Regions from separate parts of the Homo sapiens genome. Here region 2 is linked to region 1. Evidence: fine-mapped expression QTL. Tissue or cell type: whole blood. Region 1 holds a variant in brackets; the other region holds the start of a gene. All regions are shown on one strand. Distances are from middle to middle.

Region 1 (8,354 bases):
AGGAATGGGATTTTACCTACGAATCCTTTTACATTGTAATATAATTCCATTCAATGAAATATTAGAGTGAATTATTTAAATATCATAACATTAAAAATGACAAAAGTCAGCTTTAATAGAATTGACTTATTCCATCATTTTGTCTCCGTAATTCTAGAGGATATATATATTTATTTCTTCATCTTGTTTGGCTGTTTAGCAGTAGACATGCTGTTATTTTGGTAAGTCTTACTTATTTATAATTCTTGACACAGATGGAATCAAAATCTTGGTTTTAACTATTTCTAGACTTTCTGTGATAGGAACCAAGAATCACACAGCATAGTCTTTGTTACCATTCAGATAGACTGTTTGGATATATTCAAGTTATCTATTTCATTTCCACCATTTGTAACAGACACTATTAGGTATTATGACCCAAATGTTCAATTAGAAATGATCTTGTTTTTGAGGAATTTACAACCTACTGTGGGAGACAACAATGTAAGACAGTAATAGAGTCTTTGATAATGATAACAGAATAGAAAGTAATTCAAAATATGAGACTGTCAGAAGAGGGAAGGGCAAATTAGCAGAAGAAATTTACAGAAGAAAGAGCATTTGACTTGAATCTTGAAAAGTCAGAGCCATAATGAAGGGAACGGCATGTTAGTCACTAGAGAAAAACATGACAGTGGCTTCACAGCAGGTAAGTAAAATGGAGGGTGATGTGGTTTGGCTGTGTCCCCATCCAAATTTTATCTTGAATTGTAGTTCCATAATCCCCACATGTTATGGGAAGGACCAGGTGGAGATAATTGAATCATGGGGGTGGTTTCCCCCATCTTGTTCTTATGATAGTGAGTGAGTTATCATGAGATCTGATGGTTATATGAGGTCCTTCCCCCTTTGCTGAGCACTGGTTCTTCTCTCTTCTGCCACCATGTGAAGAAGGATGTGTTTGCTTCCCCTTCCACCATGATTGTAGGTTTCCTGCGGCCTACCCAGCCATGCTGAACTGTGAGTCAATAGTCAATTAATCCTCTTTTCTTTATAAATGCCCAAGTCTTGGGTATGCCTTTGCTATAATAGCAGTGTGAGAACAGACTAATACGGAGGGCTTGAGCCGTGACATGGCACTGACAAATTCGAGGAGAAAAAGGAGGTCAGCATAGATGTTGATGATATGGAAAAGTCAGCTGAGATAAAAATCACAAAGTTACTCAATGAGTGAAAAGAGTGTGGCTATTCAGATGTAGGTTTTCACGTACTGGTAGCATGAATAAATCTGCCAAGAAGCTTTGGAAAATACCAAGATGAGGAACAACAAAGACTGAGAAAATAAGTTAGGAGACCGTTTTTCATAAGGAGACTATGGAGGCCTAAAATAGGAGAGTAGTAGATAGAATGGGAAGGATAATATGAATTGAAAGACACTTCAGAAGCAAAATCAATAAGATGCATTCATCTATTTTATGTAAGGAGGGGAGAGAGAACATGCCAAAGAGAAACCAAAGAATACTACATGTTCTAAATAAACTGGAGAAGTTGGTTTCCAGTGCTACTCTATGAGCAAGTGCCCAATACTATAAATCTCAGAGCCCCCATGTATTAGTCTGTTCTCACGCTGCTAATAAAGGCCTACCTGAGACTGGGTAACTTATAACAGAAAGAGGTTTAATTGACTCACAGTTCCACATGGCTGGGGAGGCCTCACAATCATGTCAGAAGGCGAATGAGGAGCAAAGGTTCATCTTGCATGGTGGCAGACAAGAGAGCTAGTGCAGGGGAACTCCCCTTTATGAAACCATTAGCTCTCGTGAGACTTATTCACTACCTGGAGAACAGTATGGGGGAAACTGCCCCTATGATTCAGTTATCTCCACCTGGCCCCCCACTTGACACATGAGGATTGCAGAACTACAATTCAAGATGAGATTTGAATGGGGACACAGCCAAAACATATCACTCCATTCCTGAGACTATTCTTCAGAATGTCTGGGATGGTGCTAGGAATCTTCATTTTAAAAAAATTTCCCCAGGGAATAGTTTCTGTGGTCATTTCTGCCATAGGCCTGGTAGGTAGCAAGCCATGTTGTTAACACTTACCTATTCCATCAAATGACACCTTGTGTCTAGTTTTATAGAGAGGATGTGTGTCACTACTTTAGGAGAGAGAAGAATGATGCCAACATTTATAACTTTTGAGAGTGGCTATGTCATAGATTCCTTTGAAAAAATCAATCTTGAGTATATTCATGTTTCTAAAAACCAATGGAACCAGGAGTTCTGATGACTTTTATTTAATAAGCTGTTTTTCTTTTTTAAAAATAATTTAAACTTTTATTTTAGATTCAGGGGGTTCATGTGCAGGTTTTTTACATGGGTATATTGTGTGATGCTGAAGTTTGGGGTACAAATAATTCTGTCACCCAGGTAGTGAGCGTAGTATACAATAAGTAGTTTTTCAGCCCTTACCTCCCTGCCCCCATCTCCCTCATTTAGTAGTCTCGTGTCTATTGTTCCTATCCTTTTGTCCATATGTACCCAATGTTTAGCTCCCTCATGCAGTATTTGGTCTTCTATTTCTGTGGTTAATTCATTTAATAAGCCATTATTTTGATGCTTTTCGTTCCCTCCACAATCCACAGACATTTTTGGGGTTTATCTACAGGCAAAGTCTTAGTTTACTACAGGGGAAGATGTCCTCAGTGTTTTGGTAAAGAGAACAAATGAATGTAGTTCCCTACTGATTAATTGATACAGTGTACACTTATTTTAATGTAGAATGGTCTTAAAGAAATAGAAACAGTTTTAGACAGCTAATCTGCCATCTGGAATATAAGATATAAGTACATGTTCTCTATTAAATTTTAATCAGGACACAACCTGGAGTCTATAAAAGAAATTGCTGACAGATTTGGCTACACAAAAATTCAAATGTCCCTATGATGAAGTTTCCACATTCCAAGTTAAAAGATAAACAACAGGCTAAGAGAAACATTTACACTAAGCAAAAGAAACAAAGGTGTTCATTATAGGTAAAGAATTTCTTAGAATCATGAAGAAAAAGAAAGATCCAAAGAAAAAATGGGGCAAATACGTAAACAGGCAACTCAGAACAAACAAACAAACAACACAAATGTCCAGTGTAGGTAAGACTTGTTCAACCTCAGTAGTAATTTAAAAAGGCAAGTGAGAAAACAAGTTTTTTTTTTTTTACAAAATATTGACAAAACATTTTTTAATTGATAACAAATAGTGATTGAGAGACTGTGCAAAACAATAGTCTAGTCACAGACAACTTGGTGGAATATAAATCGTTTTTGCTCTTTGTGAGAGAACTTTGGTAGTATCCATAAATTTAAAATGCATATATCCTTTCACTTATGGATTTCAGTACAATCTAGCCTATAAAATTACTAGCATGTATGGTCAAAGATGTATACCTAAGAATGTCAGTTTCAGTATTATTTATAATAACAAAAAGCTGGAAATACCCTCATTATGTATCAATAATGTAATAATAAATCCTGAAACGTTATGCACCCGTCAAAAATGAGATAGATTTATAGGTCTTGATTTTTTAAAAAAGATCTCTTTGGTGTAGTAAGTGAACAAAATCACTTCACAGAATAAAACATATAGTATGAGTGAATTTGTAGGTTTCTAAAATTTATATGATTGCATATATACATCTATGCATATAAAAATATTTACAAGGGCTGGATGGATTTTATAAGGGTTGGATGAATACTATTGTGGGGAAGTATGAATTTACTTCTGGGGAAGGGAATCATTTGGGAAAGTGGGACTTCATAAAAGATTTTCATTGTTTAATGTGTATAGCCCTACATTATGTAAATATTCTACGATAAAAATATTTTCTTATATAATTGGAAAAATAAACAATAGATATTAAAAAACCTCCCTAATATTGGAGAAAACAGTAAAGTTAAAGACTTCTTAAGGGAAAAACAAAGCACACCTGTTCTAACTGTAAGAAAAGCTTCTGAACTTCCTGGCTATGCCTATCTTTGACAAAATGCTAGTGCTGTGTTAAAAGAATACATTAAAATTTAACACTTTATGATTAAATGTAAGATTTAGGGTGTGGAGATTTCAAACTGTGAATTTGCGTAAAATTTAGTTTGCTTGTTGCTGCTGTTTTTTTTTTCTTGTAAAGCTGTAGCTGATAAAAAGTCTTGTGAGAGAGAGAGGAGAGAGTAACTGATGCTTAGACAAAATAAAGTCATTATCATATGACAAGGTCTTTCTCATTCCATTCAGGCCCCTTAATAACTTTATTGCATCTCTAGGTATAAAGATCATATCTCACAAGGGAAGAAACTGCATTATATATGCTGGGCAGCTGCCTACCTACCATTCTCATGCATTTGTTGCGAGAGCAACATCTGTGTTCTTTCTACATGTAGAGGGCTCCGCTGCCATCCTTCCCAAAACTTCTGGAGGTCACCGTTTTTACAACAGGATATCTCTCGCACCAGTGACCTGCATTTTAACACTTTGCCCTGTTATCTATAGAAAGAGAGGTTCTTTCCAAATCCCAGGAGTGCGTTAAACGTTATTTCTGAGGTAAATCAGACTCACACAAAGTTAGCGTTCCCCAAAGGGGGGGGGGGGGTGGTGCCTCAGTATAAAAATGTCCCCCAGTGGATAATTCATCATGTGATATTTCAAGCACTGAGAAAGCAGAAGTAACAACATTTGGAAAGAAAGGGTG[G/C]AATTTCCTTCCTTTACATGTGTGAGGAGCGCGCGCCTGTGTGTGGGGGGTGGGGTGGGGGGCTATGGGAAGGAGTGGATCTTGTAGTGGACAGCATTCTTTGAATATAAATATACATGTAAACATATAAATATATAAATATATATGCGCGCATTTTTCTCCTGCATAAAGGAGTCAGGCCGATCTCTTTCTATTTGATCTTAATCCCTCTCCCCCGCCAGCGTGGCCCAGGAGCACCCCTCTCTTTCTAATAAACGGCTGGCAGAGCAAGCCGTTCACGCAGTCCCCTTTGATCACCTTGGAGCTGTCAGCCCTTGCTGCTGTTTTCCTCCCAGCTCTTGTTCCTGCCTAAAAGTGGAAGTAATACCCACTGAAAGAAATACCCCAGGTGTCCTGCAAAGCATTAATCTATTTCTTCTTTTTCTTCTTTTTTCCTGAGGCCCACCCTCCCAGCTTGAACAAATCCCCCTCTTCCTCCCTCCTCCCCTCTCTGCAGAATCCCAGTTCCTTTTGAGACACCCTCCACTGTGCTGGCGTGACCCCCTGGGCCCTCGCTGTCTGAGAAGCTACCACCCGGCCAGACAGGGGAGGCTCCGCCCTGCCCCTGCACCCGCCGCCCTCTCCCCGGCCGCACGGGAGCCCGGATCCCGCAGGCATCTGTGTTCGCAGGTTCTGCCGTTTGCTTTCGGGAAGGCGAGCATTGTTTTCCTCTGGATGCAAGCTTTTGCTGACCCACACCCCCCTTCCCCAATGCCTCCGCTTCCCTTCCCCCTTCGGGGACTTGGGATTGCCCTGCAGACTCCCTGGACTTGAGCGTTTTGGTCTCTGGCTGCAGTGTTTGTGAGAGAGGCTGCGGATGCGACCCAGCTCCGGCTCAGCTGCGCGCGTTTGCAAATGCGGCTGCGTCCAGACAGGGCATGGAACACATTTCCAAGCTCACGTCCCCGTTTCTTGTTTACAGCTGAGATTATAAGCAATCTATGTGCCCTCTTATCATCGTGTCAGGCAATGATATATAGTTTGTAAATATTATTTAAAGGAAATGATTTGCAAAGGCAAACAATTTTAAGCAAAGTATATGGACCATGAGGTTTGTCTTTAATGTACTTACCAGAAGGACAGAGAAGGGGGCTGGGAGACCGGAAAATTATGGGGTGAGGTGTGTGGGTGGGGGAAAAGGTGGCGGGGATGACTCAAAGGATTCTGGTGATTCGATGACAGTGACATAACTAATTAAATGTAATGTTGCTTAAAAGCCTTTGCTCTCTTTCTGAAATTGCTCGAAAGTATGCATTATTAAAGAAAAAAAGATAATGTAGAAGGAGGGGGACTTAGAATGACTGAATACAACTCATTGTGCTGGCTCAAAAATGTCAAACTGCAGTGGAAAGAAATACAGCATTACAGGCTGGTGCGCTGAGGCCCCAGCTAGGGAAGGGGGAACTGTTAAGTGGAAAATTCCTGCAGAGGACTCGTTTCCATTTCCAATGGGAAGAAAGAGAGTGTTGTTGGAAGCTGGCAGATCTTTGGAAAATACAGGGGAGCACAGGGAAAATGACAAAAATGATCTCATTGAACTCTGAGAAATCTAGCAAACAAATAGCTTTAGCCAACCTACCACATTCTTATAGTGCCTGTGCCTGCATACCAAGACTGAGAAAGGATGAAATCTCAGCTCTCCCTCTCTCTGGTCCCCCTTGTCTCCTGAGAGGAAAGGAATGATGCTTGAGACACTGGCAGCAGCAGAGGATCATGACTGTAGAAATGTGTCTATGAGTACATGTGTGCTCCTCAAATAGACTTGTGTGCTTAGGGAGATACTTACTTTGCATCCTGAATACTAAAATGATGGTGCAGCTGTATTTGTTGAACACTAGAGGATTTCAGTTTAAGGAGCATTTTTCTGTCCGAAAGAACCACAAATCCTAACAGGAGTCACCAGGTTTTGCCACCCAGGGGTGGTCTCTGTTAGTGGGTTTTCTTCTAAGGATAGCCTGAATTGCATCACGAGCAGCTAGGTGATGGAGCAGGGCGAGAGCAAGCACATCTCAGAAGCTGTGTGCAGGTGTATTCGTATAACCGCGACCAGGAATTTTAGAATTATCATTACATGTTCCAGTGGAGAAAAACAGAGACTAATAAGAAGCCACGTTTTTTCTTATTCTGTAAAGCTTCTGTCAAGAAGAAAGAAAAATGCCAGGCAGTGAATGCACTGCATGTACACAAATGAAGTTCAAACGATCTTCATTTGCTATGCTGATTTTTTCTCTATCAGATCCACAGCACACTGACAAGCTAAAGAAAACTTGTTTTACATTTATGGCTAGGATATGTGTGTATGTGTGTTGAGTAACACTTTTAAATATATTCCTTTCCATAGTAGTCTGATAATTTAATAACTGGTGAATTATATTGAAAACACTTTATTAAAACTATTTGACATTTCAAGTAAACTTTATTAAAAACTACAGATGACTGAATTTACGTGGTCAATATTCTACCTACTGACAAATCCAAAGCATAGATCAGCATATCTTGTATCAGTCCAATGTCTCCTCCAAAAATTTAATTTTATTTGGATATGTAAATTCAATGCTATGATGGACCTTGGGACTTGTAAATTTTACATAGAAAACAATATTTGGTTCAGACCAATTCTTAAGTTATGTCCAATTGCCAAGGCAATGCCCATAGTAATTGAAGAAATATACTGTGAGTTACTCATTATATATTTAAGATATAAATGTTCTTGTCTGTTCTTACAAACAGCTTACTTACATAGAGTTTTAATGAGATATAAGTCATATCCCATAACATTCACTTACTTTAAGTGTTCAATTCAATGGTTCATATATTATTTACGTTATGCCACCACTACTACAGTTTCATTTTAAGATGTTTTCATCACTCTATAAAGAAAGATTGTGATTATTTATGATCACTATCCATTCCTGCCCCAGCCCTAAGTAATGTTTTTGAGGTCCGTCCATGTTGTTCCTTTTAATTGCCAAATAGTTTTCCATTGTATAGCTATACCATACTTTATTTATCGATTCATCAGTTGACGAACATCAGTTGACGAACAGAAATGTTTCCATTTCTGGGCGTGGTGATTAATGCTGCAATGAACATTCACATATAAGTCATTGTGCAGACATGTTCTCATTTATTTTTGGTAGATACCTAACTAAGTGTGGAATTGCTATATCATATGGTATGCTTACATTTTTCAGAAACTGCCAAATTGTTTTCCAAAGTGGCTGTACAATTTTACATTCTTACCAAAAGCATATGAAAGTTATAATTGCTCCAAACAGTAACACTTGTTATTGTCTGTCTTTTTGATTATAGCCATTCTGGTGAGTGAGAAATAATATCACATTGTGGTATTGATTTGCATTTTGTTATGTTCAATCACGTGCATCTTTACCTGTGTTTATTAATCATTTGTGTATCTTCTAAGGAGAAATATCTAAATATTCAAAACCTTCCACCATTTTTTTAGTTGTGTTATTTGGTTTTTATTGCTCACCTGTTAGAATCCTTTTTATATTCTGGGCACAAATCCTGTACTGGATATATGATTTATGAATGTTTTCTCTCAGTTTGTGGGTTAGTTTGTTATTTTCTT
Region 2 (8,000 bases), 770 kb after region 1:
CTGATGGTGGGGATGTGGAAGGCTGGGCTCCAGCCTAGCCCCGCAGTATCCCCCACCCAGGCTGTCGCTGCTGGTGGAAGAGGAAGAATCATCTGCTGTTGCAGCATAGAGAAGGCGACCAGAGCTAGTGGAAAGGCGGAGGTGCTGATGCCGGGCACCCTCCTCCGGCTCCCCGGGGCGCTGGGTGTGCTTAAAGGATCTTGGCAATGAGTAGTAGGAGAGGACTGGCTTGTGCTGGGGGTCCTCAGGGCCGTAGTAGCAGTCGGAGGGGCTGCTGGTGTTGGAGTCCCCCACTGGTGACATGTTCATGTAGTCACCTGTGCAAGGTAAGAGCTTACCACCGCTGCTCTCCACTGGGGGTTTGGGGTGAGGCAAGACATGAGAGTGGTGGCCCCCTACCCCGTTTGTCCACAGCTTTCCATAGCTGGTCCCGGAAGGGACGGCGTTGCTGCTGCTGCTGCTGCTGCTGGGGCCACCTCCAATGTCAGGAGAGCAGCCACCGCTGGGGGACATCATCATGTAGCCATTGGGGTCCACTCTCTGGGGATGGCGTCTGATGGGATTGATGATCTGCTGTGGGGCAGATACGCTCTTGGGGCTCATGGGCATATAGTCTCCACTGCCCTTTCGGCCACTGGGCACTGGGGCCACCCCTGGGGACATGGGCATGTAGCCATCATCCGTGTGGAGGGTGGAGCTGTCTGGGCGGTGGTGCCCCCCCCGACGCTCCAAGGGGTGCATTTCCAGACCCTCCTCTGGGTAGGAGCGGGTGGGCACGAAGGCGGAGTGCCTGTGTCCCGGCAGTCGGCCTCCACTGCCACCTCCTGGTGGGTAGGCAGGCATCATCTCTGTGTACTCCTCAATGGAAGCCACTGAGGACTGGGACGGGGTCTTCTGGTGGGTAATGGTAGGGGATGTGCCTGCCGAGTGAGTTCTCTTTCGGAACCGATTATCCAGATCTGCAGCACTGGCTGCTTCATCCCCAGCCAAGGCTGGACTCGTGCCCAAGCCTGTTCCTGGGGTGCAGCGGTGGCCATTGCCACCCCGAGACAAAATGTAGTGACCGTTGGGGGCGGTCAGGGTGGAGGGCCCCTTGCCACCCATGCAGATATAGTTGCTTAGCTCCTCCTCACCGCGGGCTGGTGGGGTGTGGCCCAGGGAATCCGGAGTGACACTGCGGAAGGAACTCCGGAAATCGCAGGGACTGGAGCCATACTCATCCGAGGAGATGAAACCGCCATCGCTGGGGGAACCAGACACCGAAGCACTAGATCGCCGTGGGAAGAGACAATCCGAGGTGGAGCCATGGCCACTGGTGCTACTGGACGACAGACTGACCGGGCTGGTGGCCGAAGGCGAGCAGCGGGAAGCCGGCATGGGGATGGAGCGGCTGTGGTTGAGCGGGGGGTGCAGCCGGGCGCTGCCCCGATGCCGGTGGGCGTGGGTTCTGTTGGTGCTGGGACTCACAGGGCTGCCGTCCACCGAGGCTGGGCGGGACATGGTGCCTTCGCCGTCACTGGAGGCGCGGACACGGAAGGAGCCTGGCTTCCCGCCCACCATGCTGGCCGGGGAGGTGGCGGTGATGCTCTCAGTGCGTGATCGGCGGGTCAGCCCCACCTGGCTGGGCGGGGGATTGTTGAGATGGTGCCGGCGCAGGGGGACGCTGATGGGGTTAGAGCAGTTGGACGAGGACTGGCTCTTGCTGCGAGGGCGGAACTCATCACTCATGGCCCGCATGGCCTCCAGGATGGTCTCGTGCATGTTCTGGGCCACCACAGAGTCATCCACCTGCATCCAGAACTCCCCGGGCCCCGTCACGGCAGAACGGCCCACCTCGATGAAGAAGAAGTTTTCCGAGTGGCCACAGCGCCTGATGTTCATCAGCTGCAGCACCACGGCCGCTGCCTCCGAGTTCAGCTTCACGAAGCTGATGGTCTTGCTGGTCAGGCAAAGGCGGTAGATACCAATCAGGTTCTTTGTCTGACCCAGGCCCTTGGGCTTCAGGATCACTTGCCAGACCTCTTTGAATGCGGGTCCTGGGGGCACGTCACCGTAGCTCAAGTCCTCCCCAGCCTCACCAAGGCCGGAGCTGCCGCTGCAGCTGCCCCCACCACCTCCCGCCCCGAGGGCCGCAGCTCCGTCGTGGTGGCCCTTAGCACGGTTGTGCAGCTGTAGGAGAGCCTGGTACCAGCTGTCTTGCTCGGCCTCGCTGTCCGCCGCGATGGCAAAGTGCTCGTCCCGGGTGTAGAGAGCCACCAGGTGCTTGTTCTTGGAGTCAGCCCGCTTGTTGATGTTGAAGCAGCTCTCAAGGGGGATCGAGCGTTTGGGGGCGCTCGACTTGTGCCGCCACTTCTTCTCGTTCTCGTAGTACTCGAGGCGCGCCGGGCCCCCAGCCTCGCTGGCCGCGCGCAGTACGAAGAAGCGTTTGTGCATGCTCTTGGGTTTGCGCAGGTAGCCCACCTTGCGCACGTCCGAGAAGCCATCGCTCTCCGGAGGGCTCGCCATGCTGCCACCGCCACCACCAACGCTGAGCAGAGGGAGGCTCCGAAAAACAACCGGGTGGGGGGCGGAGGCTCCTCGCCGCGGCCCGGCACATGCAAACAGGGCTGGAGGCAGCAGAAACCCCGACTCTGAAATCCACGCCGCCCCCCGCGCCGGGGAGGGGCAGCTGAAGGAGGACGCAGCTGCTGAGCCCAGGAGAGAGCCCGACCGGAGTTTTCGGGCGCTTCACGCCCGGCGGGGAGGCAGTGCGTCCGGGGTGAGGGCAGCCCCGATCCTCCGAGAGCCAAGTCTCCTCTCAGCCGCCGCCGCCACCAGGAAGGAGCGAAGATGCATCTCTCGTCGCCCCGGCTGGAGTCCGGCACAGGGAGGCGACAGTCGGGGGTCCCTGCGGTGCCCCTCCAGGAGCGCGCGCGCGCGCGCGCCTTCCCTCCTGAGTTCCCCTCTGGAAGCAGCGATTCCCGAGGCAAATTAAATATCCTTGGGCAGGGGGAGGCGGGTTGCCAAGTCCCAACGTTGCACGGGGTTCTCCCTCCTCCTTCGCCTCCTCCCACCCCCCAACCGTCCCAGCCGCCACCAGCCGCCCAAATACCAGCTCAGTCGCAGAGACCGCGGCGCTGCGGCTGTTGCTGTTGCTGCTGCTGCTGCTGCTGCTGCTGCCGCCGCCCGCGGGCGCGTCCTCTGCAGCCCCCATCCGGGCCCATCTCGGCGGGTGGAGAAAGTGGCTTTTCCATGCGAAACGATACCGGGCAGCCACTGCAGCTGGGGACCGGCCGGAGGGACAGACTCATCCCTGCCCCTCGCTCCAGGCGGCTGGGGAGGAGGGGAGGGGACAAGGGCGAGAGGGGATGGGGGAGGTTTGGGAAGGGTTCGGGGAAGACGCCTGTTCCTCGGGAGGCGCTGCCGCTGCAGTTACTTCTCCCCTCCTCCCTCCTCCTCCTCCTCCTCGGAGAGTTGCCGAGAGCCCCAACCAAAACAAGCGGCGGCGTCTGGCTCTGCGCGCCGGCCCCCTCCGACCGCGCCGCCGTCTCACTCGGAGGAGAAAAACACGTGACGGAGCCTCCGCGCTCGGCAGCCGGGCAGCCGCCGCCGGGAGGCTCCCGCCCGGGTCTCTACATTCCGGGCCGAGCCCGCCCCGCGCCCGCCCCTCTCCGCCCCCCAGCCGTGCTGCAGCGGCGCCCGCGCCGACCCCGGCGCAGCGCTAGGACAGCGCCCCTGCGCGGCCGCCAGCTCCGGCGCAGCGCCTCCCTACACGCGCGCCAACCGGGGCGCCCCCGGCCCGCAGGAATCCCCGCGGCGGGCGCAGGCGGGGGTGTTTGGGTGGCTACCCGAAAGCACGAGGGGAGTCTGGGAAAACGGGAGGGGGCGAGCTCGGGAAGACGCAGGAGTGAGGGTGGGGGGCCACGGGGGGGCACTGCGGCTACAGAGCCCCGAGTGGGAGGCCGGGGGGAGGCGGGGGCGCCGGAGCTGGGCTGCCTCTTACCTATCAGGTAAGACTGACCCACGGGAGGGAGGTTTCTAGTCAAGGCTGTTTCCCCCAGGAAATTTAAAAGCTAGATTTCGGCTTCAGGGCGATAGGCCATGGTGAGGGGATCTGTATTTTTTAAGGTTTTTCTAAAGGACTTCTGGGCCAGCCTTCCACCTTGGGATCCCCAGATTTGCTGCCGTGAGGTACCTGGAAGGAACAGAGGGACGCCCAAGGGCAGTGACTGGGGGCAGTTATGGTCACTACAAAAGGAGAACAGGGATCCCCAGGAAGTGTCTCACGTCCGGCGCTGTGGAATTAGTTGCTGATCAAGTAGGGAGAAAATGTAAATATCACCTTTTCTCCTGCTCCCCTTGCCCATCCGTGTGACGGGGGGACTCACACCTAAGGCTGAGGGCATGGGGGAGGGGAAATGAGAGGTCCCTTATCATATTCCGAAGTCTATCCGTGACTTTAAAAAGCTGTTAGGGACCTTCAGAGGGTTCATAAGGCCAAAACCCTACTGTGCAAATATTGGCTGAAATGTTTGTTTCACACACAGCTCCCACACCCATTGAACCACCCTATAAGTTTTTAACCTTGACCACAAGGATAACAGGGAGAAAACAAGGATGGTGCCAGCTCAACTGTACAGGAAAATGGTTACTTCATGAGTGGACCAGATCAGCAGCCTGGGTCTACTTGAAGCGCCCCTTTCAGGGTCACCTTGCGGTATCAGTCTCCCCACAAACAAACGCTCCCCAGAGTTTTTTTATTTTTTAAGCCGACCTATAAACAAGCAGTTTGTCCCTGCTTGCTCGCCTGGCACTAAGGACCCACAGAGATGTCACTCGGTTTAATGCTGTCTCATTTTGATGCCTGGCCCGTTTGGGGTTGCCGCCCCTTTACTACGCCGGGACCCTCCTCGGCCTCAGGCTCCCAGGCACTGCAGGATGCTGGCTGGGCACTCAGCAGTCGAGGCGCTGGGCATGCTCAGTGGCTGGGACCCGGCGGGCCGCGGGGGAGCGCGCCTCGGCCCAATGCGGCTGAGGGGCGGAGCGAGTTTCCCGGGGAGGCCTGCTGATTGGTGGGATGGCCTGTTTTTCAAGCCTTGCACTGCAGAGGGAAGGTGGGGGTAGAAGGGTTGAGGGTACCAAGGTAGGTTGCAAAGCGTAGTAAAAAAAGAAAAAGAAGATGATGATGATGAAGGAGAAAAAGAACCATAGGCGCCATTCAGGGGTGTGCGATACGTAAATTAGGGGGATTGGGCATCTGCAGAGGGGCTCCTCCCCACCCAAGCCTGGGAGCCTCTCGTTTCTCCTCTCCCCTTCCTGTTCCCGGTCGTCATGCAGCCTCATCTAAACCTGGTTAATCTATAATTTGAGTACACATGTTGAATTGAAAGCCCTCCCTTCTTTTCCTCTGACAGCTTGGTGATGTGGGCACACGTGCCCACTACAGCAAGGCTATTAATAGCAGATATTTGGAAATGGAAGCGAGGCGGCACTCACAGTGACCGAAATTCTGGGGGTATAGAGTGCCTTACAGGGGGTAGGGCAGGGAGGTGCAGAATAAAGAAGCCTGAAGTTGGTGGAAAAGTGTAACTGTGTGCCTGGTTTTACCCTAGACAAGAAAAAAGAGAGATTATAAAAGGGTTGTTTACTAGTAACAATGTAATCCAGATAAGGCCAAAGGGCTTTTCACAGGTTTGATGTTTAGCGCTGGGATGGGGGTAGTGGAGTAATTAACATTTTGTAAGACAACAAATCAAATCCATGGACATTTACTTTTCAAATGGCCCTGTCCCTACCTCCGTCCCTCCACCCCCCACCCCCCAAAAAAAGCTAAATAAAGGTACTGTACCTCTATGGGGGAAAAATACTCTTTTCTGGAAGGAGGGGAGGGTTGGAAAATTTATTTGCACGTACCTCACAATTATCTTCATAGGAAGGATTTTGATCATAAAAAGCTAATTATGATAATAAACCTTTTAAAAAATATATCTCTCAGTGTTAAAGCATTTCTGCTTTAAAAAACACAATTTCAGTTGCTAAATATTCGATAAAAATTATGAAATAAGCCTCACTGCTGTGACAAATTATGTTCAGACCAATGGGTTTCCTATGGAAGATAATCACTGATCATAGGATATTAGTGCCATTTTTTCTACTTGCTGATGTTTTACTACCAATTTAAAGGTGGTTAATATTTGTTATAATTATACTACAGTAAATTCAATTGTTCTCTACAATTGTTTTATTAATGGGCTAACTGGAAATTCATTTACATTTGGTTCATGTAATATATAGAATAGAAAGAGACGCGTTTGTGGGAACTCACTGAAGTAATGCTGAGCAGGTATGGGTATTATTCTGTCACCTAAGCTAAATTAGTCTTTTGGTGTATTGTAATGAAATACACTGTATGAAAAATTTACTCCCCACTGAAAATTCACGGAACAGAAGAACAAGCTATTACCAAAATCTGTTGCTCAATGCTGCCATCTATAGGAGAGTTAGAGCCGATTTGTGTAATATGCTAAGGTTCATTTTAAAAGAGGGCTAAAATAGTGATTTCATCACAACATTGCAACAGCTACGTTGATGTCACTAATACAGTCCTAATTCAAGGAGTTAAGGGTTTACATGCTATGGACGCACTTTGGGGCAATAGGTCTACAACTAGCTTTAAAATTGAGTTATTGGTTTATGTATGATACTATCAGGAAAATAATGCAAAATTTATAGATTATTACATATATCTGTAAAGTGCTTGAGTTGGGTGGATGTAAAACTAAACATTTCAAAATTATAAAACACTTTTTGTATCAAAACATATGTTTTCCTTAAGATGTATGGGTCATAACTGGAGGAGCTATTTAAATACTGGCGTCTCTTAGAATTAATTTTGGCAATTTAGAACAGTGCTTGAAGGACAATTGAATGTGGATTTTCTCACTTTAAGATCTGTTTTTATTTTAAGATGGCTCAATAGTAATAAGCATTTGAATGCTTACTCTGCAAGGCAATATGAAATAGATAAAAAGACAGCTTCTTACAGCTTTGATGGGGTAATAAGAGAGTACAAAATAACAATAGTTGATGACTAAAATGTGTGTGTGTGTGTGTGTGTGTGTGAGAGAGAGAGAGAGAGATGTCAAATAACAAGTGGTATTTACTTTCATGATGGATGAAATAACTACTTAATTTTTACAGAAGAGAGGAGCCTTAAGCTTGAACTTGAAATGGGCTATAACTCAGATAAATGGCAATTATTTTTTCCCACTCAAGTTTTTTGGAACACCTACTTGTGTTAGGCACTAGGCTGGACACTGAGGATTTAGATATCAAAGACATGCTGCCCACAGGAAACTTACATCGAAAATGGCAGATGAACACAATTGCAGAGCACTATGATCTCTTTTGTGGAAAAAATAGGCACAGGGCAAATGAGATCACATAACAACCAACTGCCTTCTGACATAAACATTATCAGTTACAGACAGTGCAATTTGGGAATCTGAAAGGTGCCTCTTCCCTTAAAAACTTTGTTTTCTCATGTAATTAAAATCTTTCATCTGTTTTATTTAAAAATATATAAAATAGGCCAATTAAAAGAGAGCTGAAAAGTCACACTTGGCTTGTAAATCGGCTAGATCAGGGCTTCTCAAACCCGAGGATCTTGTTATAATGCAGGTTCTGGTTAAATGCAGAAGGTCAAGGGCAGTCTGAGGCAGTGCATTTTTAACATACTCTAGGTGATGCTGATTCTGCTGGGTAAGTAGCATAGTTCTAATGACTGATGATTAATTGAAAGACAATAATTTGGTGCTGTGACATGCAAGCAAGGCACTTATACTTTAGTATTATATACATATACAGAGAGAACAACAGCAAGAAAAATTCTACTTAACTGAGGCTTCATTGTATTTGGGCTTCTCTCTTTTCAATCACAGGCATCAAATCTTTCTGGTAAGCATGAAGAGTTATTATCAAACAGTTGTGTTAGTGTTTTCCAAGGTGTGATTGAAAATGGA

The links. PIP is the estimated chance that this variant, and not a neighbour inherited with it, causes the effect.
Region 2: it holds the start of IRS1, and the variant in region 1 is fine-mapped to the expression of IRS1 in whole blood (INTERVAL, PIP 0.99). The same link has a PIP of 0.9 or more in monocytes, monocytes after Pam3CSK4 and monocytes after R848.

What each region holds. Positions count from the first base shown.
Region 1 is chr2:226,025,883-226,034,236 of GRCh38, forward strand. No RefSeq gene overlaps it. Among named protein-coding and RNA genes, the nearest start is that of MIR5702, 630 kb to the right of the region's middle. The variant G/C (reference allele first, on the strand shown) is at 4,724.
Region 2 is chr2:226,796,234-226,804,233 of GRCh38, forward strand. It overlaps IRS1 (insulin receptor substrate 1), which reads right to left and starts at 3,587. Exons shown (of 2, transcript NM_005544.3): 1 at 1-3,587. The coding sequence starts at 2,505. It also overlaps a transcript of RHBDD1 not described here. RefSeq lists an enhancer at 726-1,675 and silencers at 2,406-2,455, 3,446-3,865, 3,886-3,955, 4,916-5,125.